Homo sapiens: one gene and its partners. The protein of the gene in region 6 interacts with the protein of the main gene of each other region in a pairwise test. Each region holds a gene or a part of one and is shown on either strand. Other genes may lie near its edges. The genes, in order: TSPAN13, EMP2, NUCKS1, CFI, SLC31A2, GLP1R and CYSTM1.

Region 1 (4,115 bases), on a different chromosome or scaffold from region 6:
CAGAATGCTTGTGGTTCCAGTCTAGCAATGACTGTTTTCAAGCTCTAATTCGTAGACAAATCCAGGTTTCTGTCATGGAGCAACAGAACTTTTGCCTTGTTAACACTCCGAGAATTATGCCTTTGAACCAAGTGCTTCTTTTAAATTGCATGTAAATTCTTTTAAATGCATGTAAAAAATTAGGAGTTTTTCAATCTTGGGATAGAAATAGTGCCTTAATTTTTGCTGCAAACTGAGGAATAAGCCTTTGAAAAGTTTTAAGGATTTTTAAAATAAAAATTATTTTAGGTACACTTAGTACTAAAAGTTACAGGCTCCAGCTTTATACATTTTCTGCAGGGATGACACATTTTATATATTAAACACATTTACTAGGGTCAGCTTCTGGAGGTTGGTTGGAACAATACGGCAAGTGCTCGAAATGACATCCAGAGAAATCTAAACTGCTGTGGGTTCCGAAGTGTTAACCCAAATGACACCTGTCTGGCTGTAAGTACATTGTATAATATATGTTTTTGGAAATGTATTACAGATAAATAATGATTAATGTGGAAGAAATGGACTTTCTGATGCTGAATTGTATTTTCAGGATTATTTTATGTATATATTTACATTATATTTCCATGTCCTCTGTTATATCATTTGCCTGTTCTCAAATACCCACTCCAGAGAGTGTTGAGAATTTCAAGGCCCTATTGGACACAGATGCTAATGGTTTATTGTCCCTAATTTCTTCCCATCCTTCTCTTCCTAGAACAAGTTGTGAAAGAAATAATAGTACGTCAGTTCATGTGTTCATATTTTGGGGAAACTCCTGTTATCACATCTCTGAGCCCTAAGCTGAATATTTCCTCAGTGAGGCTTCTTTTGTGAGATTATCTCCTTGTAGGGGGTCTGTGTTATGTTTCTGTTGCTGCGTAACACATTATTACACAGCAATAGAAACACACTGGCTTTAAATATCCATTTAGTGGCTTTAAATACCCATTTATTATCTCACAGTTTCCCTGGGTCAGGCTTGGCTGGGTCCTTTGCTCACCTGGCTGAAATCAAGGTGTCATCTGAGGCTGCAGCCTCATCTGAAGCTTGGGGTCCTCTCCCCACGCTCAGTGGTTGTTGGAAGAATTCAGTCTTTGTGGCTGTGGGACCACCCCTGTTTTTTTGCTGCCTGTTGGCTGGAGGTCTCTCTCTGCAACTAGAAGCTGCTCTCAGGTCCTATGTTACTCTTTCACAATGTGGCAGCATCAAAGTCACTGTGAGAATCTCTCCATTCTGTTAAGATGGAGTCTTTTGTAATGCGTAATGGAGTCTTATCTGATGTAAGGTAACATGGAAGTGACTGTCCTATCATATTCACAAGTTCCACGCATACTCAAGAGCAGTGATTGTATAGGGTGTGTACACCATTGAGAGGGGAGGGTGGGAGTCTTGGGGGCTGTGTTAGAGATTTGCACACTAAAAAACCAAGGCCTCAAATTGGATATAATACTCTTAGACACTAATTTTGTGTGTATGCAGTTTTTATGGGCTTTTTATAAATGTATTTTGAAATAAAGGTTTTTTTACTTTAATTGGTGCAGAGCTGTGTTAAAAGTGACCACTCGTGCTCGCCATGTGCTCCAATCATAGGAGAATATGCTGGAGAGGTTTTGAGATTTGTTGGTGGCATTGGCCTGTTCTTCAGTTTTACAGAGGTATGTGCAAATAACAATATTTTTCCTCCTTTGTCACAGAGATTCCTGTTTTGCATGACAAAGGGCCTTGATTCTTGTTATCAGTGAGCATTTTCATTGAGAACTAGCACTGTAAAAAGAGGAAACTTGGTTTAGAATCAGAAGATCTTACAAGTCTATTAATAGCACCAACTTTAGGACCGGGTGAAAGGCTTGATCTGTCTCTTCTTATGTAAAATTTAATGAACTAATGAGTGAGATTAGATTGAATTATCTCTAGGGTCTCTTCTATTTCTACAGTTGTGTGATGAATTATAATTTTAAATTTAATTTGGAAAAGGTAGGACATTCACATTGTTTAATATGTATGTTAATGTCTATAATACACAGACATACATATATAAAAAGATTATATATCTTTTTATATATATCTTGAAAAATTGCCTTCCTACACCATTTTTCATTCCCCTGTTCCTAGCCTTCTAAAACCTATGCATAATGTCTATATGTGTATAATGTATTGTGTATAATATGCAATTAATATATAGTACAATATTTATGTATGTGTATTTATCATATATTTTATTCAAGTTCAGTTTCTTTTTTTCTCATCAAGAATGAAATATGTACATTTGGCTGTCATTAACAGCATAGGAAAAAAAAAGACCAAGATTAATATTCTTTTTTTTTTTTTGAGATGGAGTCTTGCTCTGTCACCCAGGCTGGAGTGCAGTGGCACAATCTTGGCTCACTGCAAGCTCCGCCTCCCGGGTTCACGCTATTCTCCTGTCTCAGCCTCCTGAGTAGCTGGGACTACAGGCGCCCGCCACCACGCCCAGCTAATTTTTTGTATTTTTAGTAGAGACGGGGTTTCACCATGTTAGCCAGGACGGTCTGGATCTCCTGACCTCGTGATCTGCCCACCTCGGCCTCCCAAAGTGCTGGGATTACAGGCATGAGCCACCGTGCCTGGCCTAGTATTCATTTTTTATTTTTATTTATTTATTTTATTTATTTATTTTGAGACAGAGTCTTGCTCTGTTGCTTAGGCTGGAGTGTAGTGGTGCAATCTCGGCTTACTGCAAGCTCCACCTCTTGGGTTCAAGCGATTCTCCCACCTCAGCCTCCCGAGTAGCTGGGGTTACAGGCATGCACCACTACACCCAGCTAATTTTTGTATTTTTAGTAGAGACAGGGTTTCACCATGTTGGCCAGGCTGGTCTGGAACCCCTGGCCTCAAGTGATCTGCCAACCTCAACCTCACAAAGTGCTGGGGTTACAGGTGTGAGTCATTGCACCTGGCCCAATATTCATTTTTTTAAAGTTCCTTCTGACTTCCCTCTTTAGTCTGACCATTTTTTCATTTCACTGTTTCTCAGAAAAGAGCTATCTGACTTGTGAGTTGGTTGTGACATTAATTCTAGAAAAATGATATACAGCTTGACAAGAATTCTGTGCATTTCTCTCTTCTTTTGTTTAAAAACCATAGATTTTTGTTATGAAAACTTAAAAATACAGATAGAGAAAAACTGGAGTAATTTCTCTCTACACATCAGCTAGAGTCAGCAGTTATCAGAATTTTGCCACGTGGCTTCTTTTTTATATCTGGAATTTATTTTGAGAATTTAGTTCTTTTGAGCAGCCCAGTTTTCTTGTCATCAGATCACACTGCCTTCAGTTATGCTATTTTTTAAGTAGGAGTTCTTTAAAAATAGAACTCATGAGTCTTAGATTTCTAAAGTGTTCTTTCATGGAATCCTGCTTTATATCTTACATACTGTCTCCTTTGGAAATCTGGCTAGAGATTTTTATAACTTATGCAACCTGGTTTTTTAGATAGTGATAGTGGTAGGCTCTCACTTTTTAAGTTTATATTTTGCTCAATATTCACAGAATCACAGATTCTCAGAATTTGAAGGGATGCAGTTACTTAGCTGACAACTTCTTCTCATAGGTGAAATAGAAAGATTTGATTTGAACTATTTATTATACCTTTAAACAAACCTAAACCATGAGAGAAACATTGATTTAGAATCTGAAAAAAGCTATGATTAATATATGTTCTTTGTAGTAACTTGAGAAACTACAAAAAATTATGAAGATGAAAAATTAGACGTAGCTACTAAAATTACCTACTCAGAAACAATCATTTATATTGTGGCATATTTCCTTCTGCCCGTTCTATATTTAGTAAAATGAGTACCAGCTTATTGCATATTCTACATGTACTTTATTTTTCTACATACATTTTCATGTTATGAGCAATATATTTTGGTGACCTACTGCACACTGAGTGTAGGTTCTAGAGACCGCAGAGTTGATGACATCTAATCAAAGTTACCTTTGAAAAGTGCCCTCTTAATCATGAGCACTTTTGTAAGCTTGAAGTTCAATAATTATCCAGTTTTGATCTTTTTGCATTTTGGATGTAGCCTTCCTTTC
Region 2 (4,115 bases), on a different chromosome or scaffold from region 6:
CAGTAGCTCACGCCTCTAATCCCAGCACTTTGGGAGGCCAAGGCAGGCAGATCACTTGAGTTCAGGAGTTCAAGATCAGCCTGGCCAATATAGTGAAACCCCATCTCTACCAAAAATACAAAAATTAGTTGGGCTTGGTGGTGTGCACCTGTAATCCCAGCTACTTGGGAGGCTGAGGCACAAGAATCGCTTGAACCCAGGAGATGGGGGTGGCAGTGAGCCGAGATCATGCCACTGCACTCCAGCCTGGGTGACAGAGCAAGACTCTGTCTCAAAAAAAAAAAAAAAAAAAAAAAAAGGTTTATCCATTGTACCCATATGGAAAGAGCTTTATGGCATTACTGAGTTTAAAAAAAGAACAACCAGGAGAAGTATATGTGGAAAAGTGTATTATTCATATAAACATAAACAGAAATTCTTGTTGTATTTTCTGTGGCCTCACATGTTTATACGAGGAACAATGTCTGGAAGGAGACATCGGAGTAGGTCCATGTGGTTGTCTCTGATGGGGTGGTAGGGAAGGAACTGGATTGAAAGGATACAATCTTATCTCAAGCCTTATCTGTAACCAAGAGAGTATCTTCAGGAATTACTGACTTCAATAATAATGCCCTCATTTTCCCTGAGCTTGGTAAGCAATGGAGGTTGTGCAGGTGTGAGGATGGGGAGAGATGATGCCTTTGGCTGTGGGGGGTCAGAGACTCCATGGATGGACCAGTTAGGGACTGTTTTGAAAATCCAGAGACAAGGAAATGATGACCAGTGTGAGCAGGTGTCATCCAGTCCACATGGAGCATCCCCCTTGGAACATCACATTGCAGATGCCAATGAACATAATGTGTTTCCAGTCTGGATGCTGTTCATGGGGGTTAACCGTGGCCAGGTGTGGTGGCTCAGGCCTGTAATTTTAGAATTTTGGGAGGGTTAGGCAGGAGGATTGCTTGAGCACAGGAGTTTTGAGACCAGCCTGGGCAACATAATGAGACCCTGTCTCTACAAAAAAATAGCAAAATTAGCCAGGCATGGTGACACACACCTGTAGCCCCAGCTGCTCTGAAGGCTGAGGTGGGAGGATCGCTTGAGTCCAGGAGTTTGAGGCTGCAGTGAGCTGAGATTGTGCCACTGCACCCTAGCCTGGGTGACAGAGCAAGACCCCATCTCTTAAAATAAAAACAAAAAAAGCCAAAATAAACCCATGCTGACCACTCCCTTTCACTGTGAAGTGAGGGTTCTGTTTCTCTCATAGAACTGATGGAGGAGATGCTTTGGGGTCCCAGTTGTCTTATAGTGGACATTTGTCTTTGGAATGGGGATGGGAGCTTCTCTAACTCATCACAGTTTTCCAGCCTTGAGGTCCTCATCCGTCCCAGAATGAGTGCTTAGTAACTGTGGCATGAATAACATGGTGTCTGCTGAGGGGTGACAGGTGCATTCTGAAGACAGTAGGCAGATGCCAGTGGGATCAGAGAATTGGATTGCGGGGTGCTACAGGTGGGCTGTGTACAGACATGTGGAGGGTCGAGGAGGTGCTATTTGGAAACTAACTCCCAGGCTGTGACATTTATTCTGGAGATAATCCTTAATACCTGAACTTGGGAGTTCTGTGACAGGTCATCTATCCTGATTTATTCCTCACGTGTTCATTCTAATATTTATTGGCCGCTTACTATGTGCCGGGTAGTGAACAAAGATGGACTCGGCCCCTGTAATGGAATTTATCTAGCAGTGGATGGAAGATCATCTGTGGGAGGGTCAAGAGAAACCTAAATCTTTTTTTTTTTTGAGACAGGATCTCGCTGGGTCACCCAGGCTGGAGTGTAGTGGTGCAGTCACAGCTCACGGCAGCCGCGAACACCTGGGCTCAAGTGATCCTCTGTCCTCAGCCTCCTGAGTAGCTGGGACCACAGGTGCACCCAGCTAATTTTTAAATTTTTTGTAGAGACTGGGGTCTTGCTTTGTCACCCAGGCAGCTCTCGAATTCCTGGCCTCAAGTGATCCTCCCTCCTCAGCCTCCCAAAGTGCTGGGATTACAGGCATGAACCACTGTGCCCAGCTGCAACCTAAATCTTTTAAGGGTCTTTGCCCTTGTCTGTCTAGGGTACAGAAGAAAAATGAAAAATTCCCTCTTTCTCCTGCTCCCTCATTGACTTTTTTGAATATATTTAGATCATCAGGTGATATGATGTTTTGAGTAAAATGTGGCCAGGGAGCCTTGAGTCCTCTCTCTTATTAATGTGGAAAGTGCCTTGAAATTCAGATGGATGGTCATGAGCCCTAAAGCCCAGGGCCTAGAGCCCAGGAGAGGCTGACAGCAGTGGACCAGGCTGGTGTTTGAGCCAACAGTGGTGGCCTCTCAGTATACACCACTACCGCCCATCACTGGCTTACAGTGGAAGCCTGGAGCAGTCCTCTGTCTCTTCATGCAAACCTTCAGTCCTTCTGGAATCCATCCCCTCTCTTCATCTCAGTGGCTTCTATCTTGGTCCAGACCGCTGCCATCTTTTGCCTTGACAATTGCACAAGCTCCATGACCTGTATCCCTGCAGCCACTATGGCCTTGCAGTCCGTTTCCCATACGTATCCAGAAGGATCTGATAGAGACACAAAGCTGACCAAGTCACTCTTCCCCTGCCCCACTTAAAATTCTTCAGTAGTTTCAACTGCTCCTAAGCAAAAACCAGGCCTTACATGATCTGACTCAGAGGTCCTTGGCTGACTGACCTTCCGAATCTCCTGGGGAATCTGGATAGAATGCTGATTTCCTGTCCCCACCTGAAAGTAATGATATCAGAATCTCTGGAGGCAGGGGCCAGGGCACAGGGGTTTAAGGTGCCCCCAGTGTGGTTGGTGGTGAGACGTACTGGTCTAACCCCTTCTCTGGACTCATCACTCTCCCCTGTTGCTTTCTCCTCTAGCCCACTCTTTTTTCTTAGTTCCTGCAACTCTTTTTTTTTTTTTTTTTTTTTTTTTTTTGAGACGGAGTCTTGCTCTGTCACCAGGCTGGAGTGCAGTGGCGCGATCTCAGCTCACTGCAGCCGCCGACTCCCTGGTTCAAGCGATTCTCCTGCCTAAGCCTCCAAAGTAGCTGGGACTACAGGTGCACACCACCACGCCCAGCTAATTTTTGTATTTTTAGTAGAGGCAGGGTTTCACCGTGTTGGCCAGGCTGGTTTCTATCTCTTGACCTCATGATCCACCCGCCTCAGCCTCCCAAAGTGCTGGGATTACAGGCATGAGCCACCGGCCCCTGCCAGTTCCTGCAACTCTTAATCCTCTCTCACCACTGCTTCTACCTGCTCTTTCCCTCGCCCTTCTTCTTCTTCCACATTGCCTTCCTCTTTCTGTCCAGCTAATTCTTTATCCTTTAAGACCTTTAAGACTCATACCAGGCCAGGCATGGTGGCTCATGCCTATAATCCCAGCACTTTGGAAGGCCGAGGCAGGAGGATCGCTTCAGGCCAGGAGTTTGAGACCAGCCTGGGCAACATAGTGAGACCCCATCTCTACAAAAAAATAAAATAAAAATTAGCCAGCCAGATGTGGTAGCTCATGCCTGTAATCCCAGCACTTTGGGAGGCCGAGGTGGGTGGATCACTTGAAGTTAGGAGTTCGAGACCAGCCTGGCCAATGTAAAGAAACCCTGTTTCTACTAAAAATACAAAAATTAGCCAGGTGTGGTGGCACATGCCTGTAGTCCCAGCTACTTGGGAGGCTGAGGCAGGAGAATTGCTTGAATTCAAGAGGCAGACGTGACGGTGAGTTGAGATCACGCCACTGCATTCAAGCTCTGGGTGACGGGGCAAGACTCTGTCTCAAAAAATAAAATAAAATAAACATTAGCTGGGTGTGGTGGTGTGCACCTGTCGTCCTAGGTACTCCAGAGGCTAAGGTGGGAGGATTGCTTGAGGCTAGGAATTCAAGGCTACAGTGAGCTGTGATTGCACCACTGCACTCCAGCCTGGGTGACAGAGTGAGACTCTGTCTTTAAAAAAAAAAAAAAAAAAGCCACCATTTTTTCAGGGACACTTTCTAGCCCTAAGTTAAGTCAGGTTTTCTCCTCTGCCATTAGTTCTGATGGTATTTGTTTAAGCCCAGCAAGAGCTGGCAGGCACAGG
Region 3 (4,115 bases), on a different chromosome or scaffold from region 6:
AAAGCCATCAAATAACATTTGATAGTTCCATCATTCCTAACAGTAGGAAGTGATAAACAGAAGTTTAACAATGACTAGTTCTACCTAACAGAATAAAACCACCTACACAAAAAGCAAATTGATTTCTGATTTAGTTAACAAACTAGCTCCAACGAGGAGAAACCATTAGGGCTCAGAAAAAAATCAACTCATGTCATCAAGTGTGGTTTTATTCTGATAGCACAGAGGATGGGGTAGAGTTCAGAACGTGGAACTTAAACGTATTACTCTAGGTTTGTGCATTTTCACAATTAAGTCTTTGCTGGCTGCTGAGACTGTGATACCAGTGAGGAAAAAAGAGCAGTAACAACTATGATGACACAGTGTTTCTACCACTGTGTCTGAAACAAATAGATCATTCTGAAATCTTGCTCAAGTACTGGCAGTAGTTGAAGAACATGGCTAAGCCCACTAGACTCTTAAACAGGCTAGTGTCTTTATTAATAAGAGATACTTCCAGTTGCAGAATACAAGACCCTTTTAGATTTCTTGTATTCCTGCTAAACATCAGGCCAATGCCAAATCCTAATGAGGAATTTCTGTATTGAAAATAATGATTCTCAAAATTTTTAAAGCAGTAAATTTAATTTCACTTCTGCAGAAATTACCTGTAGCCTTTAGTCTGGGTTTGGGCATTTTCTTTTCTTTTCTTTCAGGTTTGGACTTCTTAACCATCTTTTTGTTTTTCTTTTTCGAACTGCCATAGTCACTATCGTCATCATCTTCCATTAGGAAATCTTCATCGCTGCCGGAATCTTCTGAGAAGAAAGAAGAATTTCAACATCTAACTTAATGTACACATCCTTCCAAGTAAAAAAGGAAGAGAGTGCTAAGAATGACTAGAGGATGGGATTTGGGAGTCAAACACCCTTGGATTCTATTTGGAGCTGTACTACCAATTTGACTGGAGTCATCACTGGCCTCATTTGTCAAATGGATTTTGCATGCACCTTACATGAGAGAGTTACATGAGTGATGTGTTTGAAAAGTAGATTGAAAACAGGAAGGGTAAGAGTTAATCTGAATAAAAACTGAAACTATCAAATAACTTTTGGTAGTTCCATCACTTCCAAGTAGTACTGGTTGAGACCAGGGAAACAAAACTGAACTGACAGGGCCTTTTTGGTCCAATTATGAATAAGTGAAACAAGAAAACCAAACACAAAACAAAAATACATAGGATTAACTAATCTGAATAACCTGTGAAACACCTAAATTTTATTATTAACATGTTTTTTTCTGTGAAAAGAGGTCTACAACCTCCTCCACCAGGGCAAAATACAAATCTCAATCACAATGCCTAATGTGACTGTTACTTAAGCAAATTGTTCATTCAGTGTTTGAACACAGACATCATTAAATAAAGGGTGCAACCATTACAAATGGTGGGCAATCGTGAGAATCTCTGAACCTTTAAAAATATTAACAGGAACCAATACAGTCATCTCTTTTAACACGGAGTATCTACCCAATTTAAGGGACTGGTTGTAACATTTAGCATCCTAGAAAATGCCAAAGTAACCAAGGTCACAAACTACAATTATGACCAAACAACCAAAGTACACAAAACAACTTCACATACTCTCCTGGAATGGTGCCTCATCCTCCTCTTCTTGTTCTTCCTCACTGCCCACATCTTCCATGAGCATCTCTCTCTGTTTAGAAGCTGCTTTAGATGCCGCCTGCCGTTGTTGGCGCACATTTTTATGATCTTCTTTTTCATCTTCACTATCCTCTGCAATATCAGAATTACCATGATATAATGATTAAAGAATTTTATATTTGACAAGATAGTGCAAAAGATTAATAATTGACTGAAAACATAACTGACTGAAAAGGCCAACACAGTGGCCAATATAGGATATAATCTGCAGCTTTATTTCATTGTAAAAGGGCAAATTCTATCCTTCAACATTTCTGCAAAATGATGGAATCAACTCAAATGCCCATCAATGATAGACTGGATAAAGAAAATGTGGTACATACACACCATGGAATACTATGCAGCCATAAAAAGGGAAGGAGATCATGCTCTTTGCAGGGACATGGATGGAGCTGGAGGCCATTATCCTCAGCAAACTAATGCAGGCACAAAAGACCAAACACTGCCATGTTCTCGCTTATAAGTGGGAGCTGAACAATGAGAACACATGGACACAGGGAGGGGAACAACACACACTGGGGCCTGTGGCGAGGGAGGGGGCAGGGTGGGGGGATGGAGAGGGAGAGCATTAAAAATTAGCTAATGCATGCTGGGCTTAATACCTAGGTGATGGGTTGATGGGTGCAGCAAATCACCATGGCACACATTTACGTATGTAACAAACCTGCACATCCTGCACATGTATCCCACAACATAAAAAAAAAAAAAATTCTACAAAATGTATAAAGGGGACCTAAATTCACAAAGAATGAACTTGGACAAGACTATGTAACCACTATTACATATAAAGTAACAAGGGAATGTAATTTTAAGCAGTAGACAAGCTGAATTAAAGCGTGAATACATGACTCCTATACTTTAAAGTTACATCATTGCTTTGCTCTACAATTCTCAATTACATTCAAATCTATGTTCACTGTTTTTGAAAGCTAAAGTTAGAAAAATATCTTAACATAGTATGAGAGAGAAAGAATGTCTTCCAATAATCTTTATTCTAAGACATAAAACACGAAAACCCTAAAATAATGTCAAACTGTTACCCTTTACAATGAATGGCTTGTGACCATTTCAATTTAGAGGGGATTGTGGAAAACCTTTTTTTTTTTTTTGAGATGGAGTTTTGCTCTTGTTGCCCAGGCTGGAGTGCAATATAGCGCAATCTCGCCTCACTGCAACCTCACCTCCCAGGTTCAAGCGATTCTCCTGCCTCACCCTCCCGAGTAGCTGGGATTACAGGTGCGCACCACCACTCCTGGCTAATTTTGTATTTTTAGTAGAGACAGGGTTTCACCATGTTGGTCAGGCTGGTCTCGAACTCCCGACCTCAGGTGATCCACCCTCCTTGGCCTCCCAAAGTGCTGGAATTACAGGCGTGAGCCACTGCGCCCAGCTGGAAAATCTTTAAAATACATATTTAGATTAATTAGTGAAAGACATTTGGAGAAGCCTATAAAAAATTTACTTTCACATATTCTTAGAGTCTATTAATGAAAAAAAAATTTTTTTTTTTTTAATTTGGAGTCTCACTCTGTCGCCCAGATTGGAGTGCAGTGGTGCAATCTTGGCTCATTGCAGCCTGTGCCTCCTGGGTTCAAGCTATTCTCCTGTCTCATCCTCCCGAGTAGCTAGGACTCCAGGCACATGCAGCCATGCCCGGCTAATTTCTTGTTGTTGTTTGCTTGTTTGTTTTTTGAGATGGAGTTTTGCTCTTCTTGCTTAGGCTGGAGTACAACAGTGGGATCTCAGCTCACTGCAACCTCTGCCTCCCAGGTTCAAGTGATTCTCCTGCCTCGGCCTCCCGAGTAGCTGGGATTACAGGCACCCACCACCACACCCGGCTAATTTTTTTATTTTTAGTAGAGAAGGAGTTTTGCCATGTTGGCCAGGCTGGTCTCGAACTCCTGACCTCAGGTGATCCACCTGCCTTGGCCTCCCAAAGTGCTGGGATTACAGGCATGAGCCACCGGGCTCAGCCAAATTTTTGTATTTTTGATAGAGACAGGGTTTTGCCATGTTGGCCAGGCTGGTCTTGAACCCTTGACCTCAGGTGATCCACCCACCTTGGCCTCCCAAAGTGCTGGGATGGCGGGTGGGAGCCACCATGCTCAGCCTAAAAAAAATTTTTTTAACACACAGTTGTGTTTGTGAATAAATTTGGTTAAAGGGTAGGCTGCCAGCCTACTGCCTCTAGACTAAACCATATTTGCCTTAGTCTCTACCTACAGCCCTTTTCTGAAAACACTTCTAGTCCCATGAGCCTTGCCATAGTCAGTGTTCAAGTCATCTCTTTCACTTTTAAAAATCTCATCTAGAGACAAACAGAATAAAGCTGACATGGCCGACCCAAAACTAAACCCACTTGGTAGAAGCTTAGCTTAATACTAGTACAGAGTTATTTATCTAGAAGTGCTCA
Region 4 (4,115 bases), on a different chromosome or scaffold from region 6:
TAGGCAACCCACAGAATGGGAGAAAATTTTTGCAATCTACTCATCTGACAAAGGGCTAATATCCAGAATCTACAATGAACTCAAACAAATTTACAAGAAAAAAACAAACAACCCCATCAAAAAGTGGGCAAAGGATATGAACAGACATTTCTCAAAAGAAGACATTTATGCAGCCAAAAGACACATGAAAAAATGCTCATCATCACTGGCCATCAGAGAAATGCAAATCAAAACCACAATGAGATACCATCTCACACCAGTTAGAATGGCGATCATTAAAAAGTCGGGAAATAACAGGTGCTGGAGAGGATGTGGAGCAATAGGAACACTTTTACACTGTTGGTGGGACTGTAAACTAGTTCAACCATTGTGGAAGTCAGTGTGGCGATTCCTCAGGGATCTAGAACTAGAAATACCATTTGACCCAGCCATCCCATTACTGGGCATATACCCAAAGGATTATAAATCATGCTGCTATAAAGACACATGCACACGTATGTTTATTGCGGCACTATTCACAATAGCAAAGACTTGGAACCAACCCAAATGTCCATCAATGATAGACCAGATTAAGAAAATGTGGCATATATACACCATGGAATACTATGCAGCCATAAAAAATGATGAGTTCATGTCCTTTGTAGGGACATGGATGAAGCTGGAAACCATCATTCTCAGCAAACTATTGCAAGGACAAAAAACCAAACACCACATCGTCTCACTCATAGGTGGGAATTGAACAATGAGAACACATGGACACAGGAAGGGGAACATCACACACTGGGGCCTGTTGTGGGGTGGGGGGAGGGGGGAAGGATAGCATTTGGAGATATACCTAATGTTAAATGACGAGTTACTGGGTGCAGCACACCAACATGGCACGTGTATGCATATGTAACTAACCTGCACATTGTGCACATGCACCTAAAACTTAAAGTACAAAAAAAAAAAAAAAAAAGAATGGTATGACTGCCATCTTGACCATGAAGAAATCCTAAAAAAAAAAAAAAAAAAAGAAAAAAAGAATCAGACAAACCTGGCTTCTAGACCCAGTTTTGGCACTTACTGTTACATGATGCAGGGCAAGTGACCCTCCTGAAACGTGAATTTCCTCATCGTAAAATGAGATAATATCTCCTATTTTGCAAGATTAGAAATACTATGTTTGTAATGGTTGACAGGTACTAGGCATAAAATTAATGAGAGCTATTATTACCCTGCAGGACTCCAGTAGAAATAATATGAGGGCTGGGAACAGGCCAATTGGGCCAAAAGCCAATCTGCGAAGAAAAGCCAATGCTGTCTCCCTGTCCCCCAGAGCTTCCTCCTGAGGATGCGCCTCCTGTCCTCTAGTCTCCCCTGCTGCCCGCAGTGAGCCCCGCTCCTTCCTCAGTGCCCTGTAGCTGTGAAGCATCAAGCTGGGGCAGACAAAAATCATAGTCTTTAAATGCCGTTAAGAAGGCAAATAAGCTAATTAAAACCATGCAAAACCTTGCAAGGATTGTCAAAGTCATTCTCCATAATTTGCTTTTCAATAAACTGTACAAATAGCTTTACACACACACACACACAAATGACAAATTGGTCATTCTGGAAACTGGCTTTTGACACAGTGATCTAGAATGAAATATGCCAGTTACGCACTTTTCATGGTTCCACGTATCTCTTTTTGGCACTTATTAGAGTTGGAATTTTTGTAATAATTTCTCTCCTGTATCTTCCACTGACCAGCTTGCAAGTGTCCTGACAGCAGGTTTTATTTATCACCTTTATATTGAAACAATGATGCTCTCATTGGATGAGAAATCCAAGCAACTTGATTTTTTTCTACCTTTATTCCTTTAAATCATTTCTGAAATCTCATTCCTCCTTGATCTTTGGATAGAAACTTTGGCAAGTGTCATAACTTTCTCAGTCACTCTTAGATTTAAACAAAAACAAAAAATTAAAGGATGTTTAGTTCCAGGAATAGTCACTAAATAGCAATGACAATGTCTAGTGCTGTGGAACCACTGAAGCTCTGACCTTCATGTCAGATGAAAGCCTCTCCTTCCTCTCAGCTCAGACTTGCTTCCAGGGTGTGTGATGGGTCCTTTCTGAGCTCTCCTCCATTCCACAGCTTTCAGGTCATGCTTTCCACCTCTCAGGAGAGGAAGAGAGGGACAGCAGCCGGGTCTCACCTGATTCTTACGGCTGAGAACTAGCCTTGGCAAGGTGGGGGTTAGAGCCAACTCTCTCATGCGGGGTACTATGAGGTTCTCTAGAGATTGCACTACTGGGGACATTTGATGTCAATTCACTCAATGCTGGCAGTACCTCTCCTCCAGCTGGCTGCTCATGGTCCATGTCTTCTCAGCTCCAGTATCCAACAGTACTAGCCCGTTTCTGCTGAGGTTGCTTACCTTTGGCAGGGAGCCTCTTGGGCAGGAGTCCTGTTTCCCTCCTGAGGACCCACACCTGTCTGTTGCCTGCCCTGCTGCCTACCATTGAAACAGGGCTTGCTCCAACACAGCCACCTCTTTTATCTCTGCCACCAGGCACCTCCAGCCTTGGGTCCTTATTCCTTTCAGGTATGGGTCAAGTACTAGTTCTTTTTTCTCCTCAGACTTCAGGGAACACATGTCAAGCACTCCAAGGGAACCTGTGGGAAGCCCTTTCACAATGAAGAGAAGCGGCAGCACCTTCCATCCTCTTTGCCTGGGGTGCAGGTGGGAGATGGAAGGGAAAACGCTACCTCACTCTGTTACATAAAATTACGGGAAGCCATTTTTTTAAACTGTACTCCTGCACCAAGCCCCAAAGACCAAACCAAAATGGAGTCACTTATGCTAAGTGGCATGTAATTAAACTGAAACTTTAAGGAAATGGGAAACCACACATTGGTGAGTTGAGGCTGGAATGGGAGGTGAGGAAGTGGAAGTAGAAGCTTGACTGGTTTTGACTAGGCACAGTGGCTCACGCCTGTAATCCCAGCACTTTGGGAGGCTGAGGTGGGAGGATCAGTTGAGGTCGGGAGTTTGAGACCAACCTGGCTAACATGGCAAAACCCCATCTCTACTAAAAATACAAAAATTAGCCAGGCATGATGGCACCTGTAATCCCAGCTCCTCAGGAGGCTGAGGTAGGAGAATCACTTGAACCCGGGAGGTGGAGTTTGCAGTGAGCGGAGACCGCACCACTGCACTCCAACCTGGATGACAGAGCGAGACTCCATCTCTAAAAAAAAAAAAAGAAAAAAAAAGAAACCGCTTTACTGGTTTTGCCATTTAGACATGAAAATATGAACACAGACCAGAAAAAAAAAAAAAAAAAAGAAAGTCTCTGTCTCCTCTCCAAGCTCTGTTAAATTGAGAATACAGGAATTTTTTTAAAGGGCATAAACCATAAGGTCAAAGAGAGTGGGGAGAGGACTGCAGGATATAAGATATCAAAATGTTGGAAGCTGGAAAACAGATGGGCTAGTGCTAATGGATTTAGCAGATCAAGGAGAACTGAAAGCTAAGCCCCACAGAACCCCAGAAAAGCTTAGGAACTGGGGGACCTAGTACCTCTGAAGAAGGAGTGGCTAACAAACAGGGAACTGGTTGAAAGAGATGGTTGTATGAACATGTTACTGAGGAATCTGTTGTAAACAGCAGAAGAAACAGCAAAGATTTGAAAGTGCTTGCCCCTGGAGAGAGAGTTAGGGGTGGGAGACGGGTGATAGGAGTGCTTTTCATTTTAAGTAAGATCTGATGTCCTTATGCTTTCAGTAGGGAAGTAGAAGATTAGGGCCAGGCGCAGTGGCTCATTCCTGTAATCCCAGCACTTTGGGAGGCTGAGGCCAGCGGATCATGAGGTCAGGAGTTCGAGACCAGCCAGGCCAGCATGGTGAAACCCCAACTCTACTCAAAATACAAAAAAAATAAAAAATAAATAAAAAAAATTAGCCAGGCAGGCTGTGCATGGTGGCTCATGCCTATCATCCCAGCACTTTGGGATGCTGAGGCAGGCAGATTGCCTGAGGTCAGCAGTTCGAGACCATTCTGGCCAACATGATGAAACCCCATCTCTACTAAAAATAAAAAAAAAAATCAGCTAGGCAGGCTGTGCACAGTGGCTCATGCCTATAATCC
Region 5 (4,115 bases), on a different chromosome or scaffold from region 6:
GTACTACAAGGCTTTCCAAGCTACAAGTCTGAGGTCCCCAATTCTTACCAGCAGGACTGTGGACACTCCAGAAATCAAACAGAAGCACCGCTGTATCTGAGAAGATGAAATGCATCTGAAAGAGAAAGGAATCTGCATCATAGGGGCACAGGGCAGTGGAAGTTACGGTCCTTAATGCTCTCCAGCACCTCCTCTGGGAGCCCAGAAAAATGGGGTCACTGGAAGTGCTGGAAGGGCCATCAGAAGTCATCAGGGCCAACTGAGGCCATAAAGAGCTGAGACTTGCCCAAGAGGGTCAGCAGCAGAGCTATAATTGAGCTGGCCATGCTCCATATGAGAATAGAGGTGTGGGAGTGTCCATCCTCACTGGACCAACTGGCTCGGGATGTGACAGTGTCCTCAGACTATGTGGGGATGTCCCCTCCATGCCTTCCAAGTGCAACTGCCTCTTCTTACCCCCCCGGGACCCTAGCCATTCTGCTGCAGCTCCAGAACAGGCTCCCGTGTGATGGAAGCCTGGAGTCCTCTTTGTCCTGTTCAGTCTAGACAGATCCCACAGTGTTTATCGTGGAGGGGCCCAGAGGCAGCTGTCTTCACTGTACTCCACATCTGCCTACTCATTCACTATACATTTGCTGAGCCCAGTTTGTGTGCCAAGCATTATGGAAGTAGGTTAATGTCTCTGACCTTGGTGAGTTCACAGCCTTACAGGAAAGACTGCAGGTAAAAGCAGTGACCATGCAGTGCCTGTCAGATGCCTTTTCAGAGGGTGCTTGCTCCACCTTGTGTTCAGGGTGGCATCAAGGGCTTTTTCTACATCATCTCATTTCATTGTCACAACAGTCCTCTGTGTGACAGGGACAATTAGGTCCATTTTACAGGAAGGAAAGTTAGGGAAACTAGACTTAGAGAAGTAATTTACTGGTGGTCACAAAGCTAGTAAGTTGGCAGAGCTGGGATTCAAACCTGAGTCTAGCTGGATTCCAAAGCCCTGGACATTCCAGGACACGGTGCTTCCTCCCAATCTCCAAGAAAGGAGGGTACAGTGGGAGCTGGATGGTGAGTTCAGACGCCCACACCAGGCTTAATGACTGTTTGGAAAGATGAGGGCCCAACAGATCTATCAGTTAGTTCACCCTCTCAGGGAAGTGAAGGCCCCCTCTGGTCCCCAGGTAAGCCCTCAGCTAGCACAAGCAGTTCTGCAAACACTGTCAGTGTTACCCAGCTAAGGAGATCCTGGCTGAGTTGTAATCAGCTAGTGGAAGCCTTTGCCTTCTAAGACAATGGCCAAATATTAGAATCCTTGAATCTCAGCACTAGAGGTATCCTCAGAGTTTTTAGTCCCATGGCTTTCAGCTTTCTTCACCAGGGAACACCAGCCAATTAAAATCTTTCTTCTAATTCCATTATGTAAAACACGGGGCTCAGGGTGGAGAGGGGAGAGAAATATGAGCTCTGATGAAACTCAGTTTGAAAAATGCTGATCTGGCCCAACTTGAGTCCCTCTCCACCCCCTCTCATTTCCAGGTGAGGAAAATGAGTATGAAGAGGGAAAAGGATTTGCCGGACCTCCTTATAAGCGGGTTACTCTCAGTTTCTGTTCAAGGGAGGAAGATATGGAGTGAGACTGTGGGTACTTGTGAAGGCTGTGGGGGCCATCAGTTCTTACAGAAAAGGAGTTCCGGTGGAGGCAAACGTCAGTGTGGGGGTGGAAAGGTAGGCAGATTTGATTAGCTGCCATTTTGTCAGGAAGCTGTGCCATGTGGGTGTCCTGTAGCCTCCTGGAAACCAGAGCCACAAACTTCTGCTTGCAGACGACAGCCCTAAACCACAGGCCTTGCATGTTCTAGTCGTCTCCAATCCTCCCCCTCTCAACAGTTAGGACCAAAGGAGATAGTAAAGAATAGTAGTCTGAGTCCAGGATTTGGAACAAAACACATTTGTTAACCAGGGCCTCTCTCTGGCCTCAGTTTCCTCCGAGGGGAGCTGGGGGAAAACTCTGCAAAGCCATCCACACAAAGTGACACACAGTAAGGGCTCAATAACCCCAGTGCCTTTTTTTCCCATACATGTCAAAGCTGGAGGGGTGTTTCTCAGAAGTGTTCCATGGGAGAAGTACAGGATGCTAGGAGGTACTGGGAAAAATGGATTCTATGGTCAAGGGAGTTTGAGAGAGACTGGAATTAGACAAAATAAGGTTTAATAGCTTTCTGCACTGCCAGAAGCCTGTACCCAGAACTCTCTCCTCCCCTTTTTCTCTTGCTGAGTGCCCTGTGGGAAAGAATCTCATAGACTATCCTCTAGGAAGTGCTAATTTAGAGCAACCCTCTTTTTTCATGCTGGGAGGGAAATGACACTGATTATTCTGTGCCAGGCACTCTTCTAAAAATGTTATATGTCTTAACTCACTCAATTTCAAGAGGGGAATTATTATTCTTAGCTCCATTTCATAGATGAGACTACTAAGGCAGACAGAGTTTAAGTAACTTGCCAAGTTGCTAGCTAGAATTTTGCCTGGGTGGGCTGGTTTCAGATTCTGTGCTCCTAACTGCTCTCAATGCAGCTTCTCAGGGCAGCACTGGAAGTCCAAGGGGCAGCTGTGACATGCCCAGGGTCACACTGTGAGTTGGTGGCAGCATCAGGACTGGATCCTGGGTCTTCTTACCAGGCCCTCATTTGGCAAGAGGAAAACAGATGCTACAACACAGAGAACAGCCCACTTTCTTGTGCAATACTAGACAGAGATGAGGGCTGTGCTGTCGTTCGGTTGTTTTAACATTTCAGGAAGATATGCAAACAGCAGAAGAAACTGATATGGCCACTTTGGAACAAAATATGGGAAGAAATTGGGGAGAGGAAGGAATGTATGAGAAAAAGCCTCTGTGCAATTAGGATAGTCATGCTTAGCCCCCGAAGGATGTTCAGCCAATAGCTGGCCCATATTTCCTGAGAAAGATGAAGAGTGCACCTTAAATAAAGGAAACAAACAAGGACCAGTCTGGGGATGGGACAGTAAGACCAGAGCCCAGGGACAACAGCGGACAACAGGATGAAAAGGCAAAGAGGATAGGGTGGGAGGGAGGACACTGGAGCGGATCACAGGTGTGGATGACGATGCTGTTATAGCCGGATCCACAGAGGCAGAGTCAGTCCCGGGTGAATCACTGGGAAACCACAGGCCAATCATGAGCTCCACACTGGCAAGCGGCTTAGTGTAGAGGGACAGCAGCAGCTGCTTAGACTCCAGGGCCTTATTAAAAGTACAGATTCCTGGGCCTCCTCAGGCCCCTAAATCAGAGTCCAGGGTCAGAGCCACAGGAGACAGGGAAGACATAGATTTTAACCAGCCCCCTTCAGGAGATTCTGAGGCTCAGTTCACTTTGTTGCAGTTTGAACAGAGGCAGCAAGGCTAGTGGTTAGGGGCACGGTCTCTAAAGCTGCACTGCCTGGATCTCCCTCCCAGCTCTGCCAGGAACCAGCTGCGTGGCCTTGAGCTGCTGACACGCAGAAAGCCCCCTGTGGACCCAGTCTCCTCGTCTGTAAGATGAGGACAGGACTCTAGGAACCCTTTCCCTTGGTTTGGCCTCACTTTCACAGGCTCCCATCTTGAACTCTATCTACTCTTCCTGAAACCTTGTAAAAGAAAAAAGTGCTAGCCTGGGCAACATGGCAAAACCCTGTCTCTACAAAAAATACAAAAATTAGTTGGGTGTGGTGGCATGTGCCTGTAGTCCCAGCTACTTGGGAGGTGCTGAGGTGGGAGGATCACTTGAGCCCGGGAGGTGGAGGTTGCAGTGAGCCAAGATCATGCCACTGCACTCCAGCCTGAGTAATAGAGTAAGACTCTGTCTCAAAAACAACAACAATAACAGTGAGTGTGCCTCTGTTTCCGGGTTGGATGGGGCACCACATCTATGCATCTCTCAGATTTGGACGCTGCAGCCTGGGGTTTGGTAGAGACCTGGGACTAACCTGGCTGTTCTACTCCCTACACTCAGCTAACATGCCTTTCAGTGCCAAAAGGGGTCTGACTTGTGTCACCAACCCCTGCCTGCGCCTACCCAGGGACTGGGCTCACTGGAGACCGTGGAGCTGCAGGACAGAGAAAGAAATGT
Region 6 (4,115 bases):
AACAGACCCATCCCACTGAGAATCCACCATTCCTTCTGAGTGTTTTTGTGCACTTCCTTCAGCTATGTCTTGGGGTTGTCGTTCTTTTTAGTTTTTTCCTGAACAGCCTTAAAAATTATAAATATTCGTCCTTCAGAGGCTGCAGATGCTGAAATGACCCAAGAGCCCCATGTATAAAATGTAGGACCCATACATAATTTAAAACAACATTTTGCTTTTTGAAATCACAAAAATGTCCACGTGTGCTGAAATTAAAATAGCTTCTTTTTAGAAGCTTGCCCCCTTGCCTTGTAGCGTGCTGGGCACATGCTGGATCCAGTCTCGGGTTCTAGCTGGCTTATCACACACCTCCCTGAGAGACTTGGGTTGCCTTGCTCACCCCTTGCTGCCTCGGAGGCCCCATGGAAGGGCCCAGCTCACTTTAAGCCCCAGCAGCATCCTTGGCATAAGTGTGCCAAGGCGGCAGGGGCTACCCTGAAGGACAGAGCTCTTCTGAGGGCAAAGGTCAACTGTATTTGCTTGGGGAAAAAAAGAACAAGAAATCAAACATAACAGCTGCAAAGGTGTTGTCCATGATATTAGCCACAGCTGAGGAGGTGGCACAGTTTTCATCAGAGCAAGTCCTGGTGGATCAACCCCCACCGCCCCGTTTCCCTTCTCACTTCTTCCCTCTTCTCCGGGTAAAGGGCTCTTCCATGCTGCCCCTAAATGCAGCAGCTGCTGGGGGTGGAGGGCAGAGAGACGGAGAAATCCCCCTTGGTTTCTGTTTCTAGAATGAAAGCAGACCACACACAAGGTCACTGCTGGGAACTGGGGCAGAAGGTGTGTCTGGGGCAGGCAGAGAGGTATGGAAGCCAGTTCTTCCCAGAGGCGGGGGGAGGGGTTAACGACAGCGCCATGAAGGCCAATCTGGCCTCCTGCACCCCAGGGCAGCGCTGTCACCTACTCTGAGCAGAGCTGTGGACATAAAACTATATTCAGACTGGGGCTCCCTGAGGACGGGGCTGTGTCTCCCCTCAGACTGGAGCTTCCTGAGGATGGGGCTGTGGCTCCCCCTTAGGTGAGGGATTCCTGACAGTAAGAGTATCTTGTCCCCTCCCTACACCAGATCAGGGCTTCTAAATACCTTCGAGCCTTCATCCCACCCCTGCAGGCACACACAGTGCAAACTACCCAGACTTCTGGCCTCTCCCACGCCTCGTATTTACAGAAACCATAACTGTGCCAGGTTCTGGGTGGTCGTGGGTGGAGGGGAATGCAGGGAGTATAAAGGTGACTGCAGGAGCCCTGCCTGAGAGAGTCTTCAGGCTACTCGGGGGTCAATGCTTTACAGGACAAGTGACATAACAGGGAAGGCAGTGGGTGAAAGTGTTCAGGGAGTGGTTGGGGCAGGGTTCAGTGCAGACTCAAGAGGCCTGAGGGATTGGGGACTGTGAGGTGGGGCTGGGGTGAAGGGGGTTGGAGGCAGACTGGGCTAGCAAGGAGGAGGGCGGGCACTTCAGCAGGAGGGCACAGCAGGGAAAAGGTACAAAGGTGGGGACATCAGTGCTCCGGAGAGCAGAGGAGAGCTGTGGACTGTTATCAGGAGGATTTTTTGGGGCAGGGAGAGAGTGGTGGTGGGCCCTGGGACAGATGGGAGGTTCTGGTCTGGGGAAAGACTGAGTAAATGAGGCTAGGGCCACCCAGTGCCATAGGGCCTGGGTGCCCAGGTAACATAGTGGAGGCTGAACAACCCTGGCCTTGGGCTCAGATCTGGGCCTGGACCTGGGTCACCCAGATATTAGGTTTGCAACCGAGTGCAAGAGTTGTATGTTTTAGGCTCAGCTTACACTTGTGCAAAAGGGAACAGCAGCCCCTCCCCCATGGGATGGCTGTGGGGACTGAGTTAATGCTTAGGATGGTGGGCACATGGAGAAGGCTCAGTCAATGGCAGCAATCCCCATGATTTCTACTGTTTAGTGGAAAGGGCAGAGTGGGAGGGAGTGACCAGGCTTCCTGGGGACTGGGGCCCCACCCCTTCCTCACTTCTAGGATCAACATATTCCCAGAAAGAGGAAATGAATATATGTTCATGTCCAATGACCAATCATTCTGCTTAATTTGTGAGATCTTCCAGCAGTAACCACAGCCAATGGCAAAGTGAAGCAGGGAGGAAGCTTTGGACCCCATGCCCTGTGAGGAGGGGCAAGGCCCTGCCCACCAGTGTCCCCCACTCCTCCATTTCATCCTCCCACAACATAAGTCCCTGCTGCAAGCCTGACAAGGTGGGGCTGTGGGTTCTGGGTAGCGGGAAGGATGCAATCCAGATGTCCCTGTCCCTCACAAGGCAGCAGAGCTGACCAGGAGAGCAAAGCAGCGGTCAGAGGGGGTCTAAAGGGCCATGGGAAGGGCAGGATGGCAGTTTCTAGAATCAAGACTTGACAGGCTTCATGGGATCTCTCTGAGGTGGATGAAGGCACGTGGAGACGACACCTGGGTTGGAGGTTACAAGAAGGAAGGGGCATCCCTCAGATTCAGGAGTTTTTGGAGGAAGCAGGAGACAGGAAAGAGGACACCAGGAGGGAGTGGTGTGGTCTACAGGAAGGAGCACTGGACAGCGATTTATAAGTTCTTGGTCTAAATCCCAGCTCTGTTAATGCAGGACTGTGGGACACGATTTATCTTTTAGGACCTCAGTTTCCTCATCAGTTGCCAGTTCTGCCGTCCATAAAATGGGCATATCATTCTTCTCAAACTGCACAGATCCAACAAGATAAAGCAGGTGAAAATCTTTGTGACTTCTCAAGCCCTGTACAAGCAGGCAGCGTTGGAAGGAAGGACAGCAGAGAAGGAAGCAGGTGGAGTGGAAGCCCCCGGGGTGGTGGGCTTTCCAACACCCCAGGAAGGGGCTCCCTCTCCAAACACTGGCTGCCAATCTGAAAGGCACTCCTATTTCTCAGTGCGAATAAGTGTATCAGATTCTTTCTTTCTCTGGGGACCATTTTGGTGACGGGAAGGAGGTGGCACAGAGGTGGGAGACATGCAGGAAGGCCTCTCAGAAGGAGGAAGGAGGGATTCCAACTCAAATTTCTGGAGTCCCCCAACTAAGTCCAGCCCTTCAGGTTCCCTGGCATCTCCTCCCAGGACCCCAACCTCCTTCCTCTGTGTCACCTCCCAGAAGTCAAATCACCCCTTCCATCAACAGACCCCTGTCTCTTTGACCGCCCCTTGTTTTTCTTTCTTTCTTTCTTTTTTTTCAAAAGCTCAGAGCTTACAATCCATTTTTTTTCCCTAAGGGCTTTAGATATCTGAACGAAAGGACAGGAAAAGGAATACTACACACATGTTCTTACAGTCACAAAAACCCCCACGTGGACACACGGTCACACGCATCATCACACACGCCCCCAAGCACATTCCCAATACTGAGACACTGACACAGACTCTCTCCCACCACACACAATCACTCACAGACTGCCAGGTACACAGTCGCATGCTGAGACACTGTCCCCAACACACACACACAGAGGAACACACAGACACTCTCACATGCACACTATCTCTCCTGCACATATAGACACACACTAGTTGACACCCATTCACACACCAAGATGCCCCCCCCCCCACACACACACACAGACCCTCCCACAGACACAGTATCATATGCAGGGTCACAAAAACATAGACACTGTCAGATGTACAGTTGCATGCTGAGATGTTGCACACACAGGGACTCATTCCCACACAGACTGTTACACACAGGGTCACTCACACATACCTGGGAACTGGGGGTTCATATAGCCTACTCCCTTCTCCCCCTGGTCTGTCTCAGACTACCTGTCTGTATCTCTGTCCCCTCCTCCAACCACCACCACCACCACACACACATAGGAATTTTCCTAGGGGCAGGCTGCAGCTGAGGAAGCCTGTTTTGCCTTGGTGCAAGGCATTCGAGGGCAGGATGTGGTTTCTTGGTTGCTCCTGCCCCAGCCCCCAGCCTGGGTCCTGTCCAGGAGGAAACCCAGCTTAGAACAATGTCCGCACTGATCAAGGCTCAGCCCTGGACTCCACCTGCCATTCACTAGAGTACAGAGACCCAGGGTCTCCAACAGCCCCTCTCTCATACTATCCTGCAG
Region 7 (4,115 bases), on a different chromosome or scaffold from region 6:
AGTAGCTGGGACTATAGACGCGTACCACCACGCCTGGCTAGTTTTTGTATTTTTAGTAGAGACGGGGTTTCACCATGTTGGCCAGGCTGGTCTTGAACTCCTGACCTCAGGTGATCTGCCCGCCTTGGCCTCCCAAAGTGCTGGGATTACAGGCATGAGCCACTGTGCCTGGCCATAATAAGCACTTTTTAAGAATTAGCTATCTTGGCCAGGCACAGTGGCTCACGCCTGTAATCCCAGCACTTTGGAAGGCCAAGGGGGGCGGATCACGAGGTCAGGAGATTGAGACCATCCTGGCTAACACAGTCTCTGCTAAAAATACAAAAAATTAGCCGGGCGTGGTGGCAGGCGCCTGTAGTCCTAGTTACTCAGGAGGCTGAGGCAGGAGAACGGCGTGAACCCAGGAGGCGGAGCTTGCAGTGAGCCGAGATCGCGCCACTGCACTTCAGCCTGGGCAACAGAGTGAGACTCCGTCTCAAAAAAAAAAAAAAAAAAAAGCTGAAAGGGCTAATTAAGAGAGCAGCTATTCTGCCAACCAAAGGGCTACAAAATAGTGACCAAGACATCTAGCACAGTGCTCCTCAAGATGTTTTACTTTTAATCTTTCAGACTGATACTTTCTGTAAAATGCAAGATTACATACTTGGATGTCACAGCAAAACCAAATTGCTCTAAAAGTTTCTAAATGTTTACTCTCACTTTCTGTACATATAATATAGTCCATAACTGTTCACTGTTCATTGACTGGCATTTGTCTACAGACTGAACTTTGAGTAACACTGTTCTATAGCACACAAGAAGGACTCAAGAGCCTCCTGAAAACTCAACTGGCAGGTTAAATAGAATTATGAAAACATTTAGTAAGAAAAAAAAGAAAAACCCCAGTAGCAGGGGCAAGAGGATGACTTGAGGGTCAACAAGCTGACAGATAAAATAAACTCAAGAGGCTAATTACTAAACCTAAAATACAAAGCTGGCTACAGAGCAAAGACTCAACTGCTAATTCCTTCCCCACCCCCAAGTGCTCTAGAGGGTAGCCCTCAGAAAACACGTTGGCCAGGAAGTCATCAGCCCCAGAGGGGACAAGAGGTGTGAATGTAGCAGGCAGAGCTGACTTGGGCCTCTTCTCAGGAGTGAGAATCCACCCTAAGCCATCATCAAGCTTTGGGGACATCAAGCACAAGTTGCAAAGGCTGGAAAGAATTTCTTCTCTGCCAAAGAAAACATGCAAACATTTCCTTTAGTGACACGGGACTGCACACCCACATATTCAGAGACACACACCTGTGGTTTTAGGAGGCTCCTGAGGTCCACCCTGCCAGCCGTACTGTGGGTATCCTTGGTAGGGGTACCCTTGAGGAGGTGGGTAGGGTCCCCCCATAGGTCCTGGACCCATTGGTTGTGGTGGATAAGGTGGGTATGGGGCCGTTGGACCAGGGCCTGGATATGGTGGAGGGTTCTCTTGGTTCATCGGGGACCTGTAAAGTGCACCTAAGAGACAAAAAGAATGAAAATTATTTGCATTTAACTGTGGAAATCATCAGGAATAAAATCCTAACCCATAAGATCATTTACAAAATACCTTCAAGGTGTATCAAGCCTTGTGCAAATCTCTAGCTCTGCCCATTTTGTTTCCTTCTCACCATCACTATAATTGGCAATTATCTTATATATTTATTTGCCTTTTGTCTATTTCCTCCACTAGACTGTAGGCTGTGACAGTAGATATCAAGTAAGTTTTGGATCACCACCATGTCCCTAGAGCACTGCAGAGTGCCTGGTACAAGGCAGTCCCCTAAATAAATGTGTTAAATGAATAGCAAGATATTTTGTTTTTTAATTCCTCTGAAGTGTCCATAAATGTGATTGGATAGCTTTAAGAAAGTGTTCTAACAGCACTATGAGTCTCATCAGTGGACGCTGATCCACTACTAGAAACCCTCCAATCAACAGGGCTGGGCCACAGTGGGGCCTTCTAACGAGCAGCACTGGCAGCAATGACCAACCAAAGTTTGTAACCATCACCATTGCTCTGGGGATTGGGGTGATCTGGTTGTTCTCCCCAGACCCGCTGCTCTGAGCAGTTGGACAGCGCTGTTTATAGAGAATGCCAAGCGTCTCCTCTGCCCATCCAGGCCCCTGAGACTCTGGAGGGCTCACCAGGAACATTTATTTGTGTTTACAGGACCCTGTCCTCCATGGTTTGCTTCTGTGAGGGAAGCCACGCTTCCCAGCCCCCAAGCCTGTTAATCATTCTCTTGATTGGGCTTGAAGTTTTCAGGGCCAGCGTCTTGTTTCTATTATCTCTTTAAGTTCCACAGTGCCTGGCACGGTGACTTTCAGATTAAAAACAAACAAATGGCCAGGTGTGGTGGCTCATGCCTGTAATCCCAGCACTTTGGGAGGCCGAGGCGGGCGGATCACGTTGAGATTGAGACCATCCTGGCTAACATGGTGAAACCCCGTCTCTACTAAAAATACAAAAAATTAGCCGGGCATGGTGGCATGTGCTTGTAGTCCCGCTACTCAGGAGGCTGAGGCAGGAGAATCGCTTGAACTTGGGAGGTAGAGGTTGCAATGAGCTGAGATCGTGCCACTGCACTCCAGCCTGGGCAACAAAGTGAGACTCCGTCTCAAAAACAAACAAACAAACAAACAAACAAACAATTACTGGGGAATGCAAAGTATAAACTCTAAGGATGACTCACTTAACATATCATCTGTCATACTGCTGCCTTGTACTGTTACCCATATCTTACATCAATAGTTAACTTTTTACCTATTTGAGTGTCTTCTATCCCCAACCAAATAGTAGGGAAGAGTCTCAGATTCAAAATGTAATAATTTCACTATTAATTCTTTTCCATAACAGGCAATCAACAAATTCCTAAGTGACTTTATTATATAAAGGACAGAATAGTTATAAATAGTCTAGGTTCCCTAGAAAATCTGGATTACAGTAGCAGTGGACTTTGATGGTTGCCCACACAACATCCATATTCTCCCTTCCTAACAGGAGTCAGGTTTCCAGGTAGATCTCTGCTCATTCTTCCTGTAGTTCATGTGCTTCAGGGAAAGCTCATCCCATCCAGCTCCAGGGTGAACCCAGTCTATCTAAGCCAATCGGGGTCACTCTCTCCACTTTTTTATCATGATTGATTCAAGGAATTCAGGACTTTACCCAGATGCAAATGGCACTCCCTGGCCACTGGGACTGGTTCTGAAGTGGTTCAATCAGTAAAAAGCTCAGACTCTCTTAACACACTCCCACCGAACCTTCCCTTCCCCTGTACAAAGGTATACACAAAGTCTAGGAAAGATTGGCCTACAAAATTGCTGACAGCCAATCTGCAGCCCTGAGAAGGAGCCAGTTTTAAGATTAAGTGGGCCATTCAGAAAGGCAGAGCAGAAAAAAGGAAAGAAATGGGATTCCAGATGACTTTATAACAGCTCCTAAATCAAAGACTAAAGCCTGGCCTAACCTAAACTACCTCTATCGAATTTCCAGTCCTGGAAACCAATGGTAAGGTAAGGTAATGAACCCTTCTGGGTGACATTCACAAACATACATTTATTAAGTGCTTTCTTGACACTGGGCTAAGTAGTGGGGTATAGAGATCAATATGCCTCAAACCCTACCCTTGTGCAACTGGCTGAAACAAACATAAGGAAAATGATTTTTAGAAAATGTGGTAAACAGACTGCTGGGTAGGAGTAGGCGCTTAAACCTAGTAGAAGGAGGTGCTGATCAAGAGAGTGTCATTTGAAGGAGTTGATTATAAATTGAAACTCTATGTTATGGGATCAAATGGCTTGAGGGTCTCTATTTCAACCACATCTGTATTGCCTCCCATTTTTGACACCATCTTATTTTTCCAGGGCCTGAAAGGGACTCAGGAAAAAAGTAGAGTTCTTTCCCTTCTCTGCGCTCTGGTCTGCAACTGGCAACACACCCTGACCTAGGAACCCTAATGCAAAGGCTCATGGTGATTAACACTACAATTATCATATGAATTTGGACAAAAGCAAATGCATTTTATTTCCTCTCTCCTACCAGGAAGGCTGTAGAAAGCCTAGTGAGCCCTGGTTAACACAGAAATCAGTCTCATTAATCC

The links.
Region 1: the proteins of GLP1R (region 6) and TSPAN13 interact in a protein complementation assay, tested with the Homo sapiens proteins (one study listed by BioGRID).
Region 2: the proteins of GLP1R (region 6) and EMP2 interact in a protein complementation assay, tested with the Homo sapiens proteins (one study listed by BioGRID).
Region 3: the proteins of GLP1R (region 6) and NUCKS1 interact in a protein complementation assay, tested with the Homo sapiens proteins (one study listed by BioGRID).
Region 4: the proteins of GLP1R (region 6) and CFI interact in a protein complementation assay, tested with the Homo sapiens proteins (one study listed by BioGRID).
Region 5: the proteins of GLP1R (region 6) and SLC31A2 interact in a protein complementation assay, tested with the Homo sapiens proteins (one study listed by BioGRID).
Region 7: the proteins of GLP1R (region 6) and CYSTM1 interact in a protein complementation assay, tested with the Homo sapiens proteins (one study listed by BioGRID).

The regions. Positions count from the first base shown.
Region 1 is NC_000007.14:16,777,423-16,781,537, forward strand, and holds part of TSPAN13 (tetraspanin-13), read left to right. Parts: intron 1-375; coding exon 376-489; intron 490-1,580; coding exon 1,581-1,694; intron 1,695-2,925; exon of another isoform or gene 2,926-4,115.
Region 2 is NC_000016.10:10,570,114-10,574,228, reverse strand, and holds part of EMP2 (epithelial membrane protein 2), read left to right. Parts: intron 1-4,115. UniProt on the Homo sapiens protein: Functions as a key regulator of cell membrane composition by regulating protein surface expression. Also, plays a role in regulation of processes including cell migration, cell proliferation, cell contraction and cell adhesion.
Region 3 is NC_000001.11:205,718,880-205,722,994, forward strand, and holds part of NUCKS1 (nuclear ubiquitous casein and cyclin-dependent kinase substrate 1), read right to left. Parts: intron 1,775-4,115; coding exon 1,622-1,774; intron 798-1,621; coding exon 648-797; intron 1-647.
Region 4 is NC_000004.12:109,767,339-109,771,453, forward strand, and holds part of CFI (complement factor I isoform 2 preproprotein), read right to left. Parts: intron 1-4,115. UniProt on the Homo sapiens protein: Trypsin-like serine protease that plays an essential role in regulating the immune response by controlling all complement pathways.
Region 5 is NC_000009.12:113,153,727-113,157,841, reverse strand, and holds part of SLC31A2 (protein SLC31A2), read right to left. Parts: intron 116-4,115; coding exon 49-115; intron 1-48. UniProt on the Homo sapiens protein: Does not function as a copper(1+) importer in vivo. However, in vitro functions as a low-affinity copper(1+) importer.
Region 6 is NC_000006.12:39,051,384-39,055,498, reverse strand, and holds part of GLP1R (glucagon-like peptide 1 receptor precursor), read right to left. Parts: intron 1-4,115.
Region 7 is NC_000005.10:140,191,822-140,195,936, reverse strand, and holds part of CYSTM1 (cysteine-rich and transmembrane domain-containing protein 1), read right to left. Parts: intron 1,492-4,115; 5' UTR 1,472-1,491; coding exon 1,285-1,471; intron 1-1,284.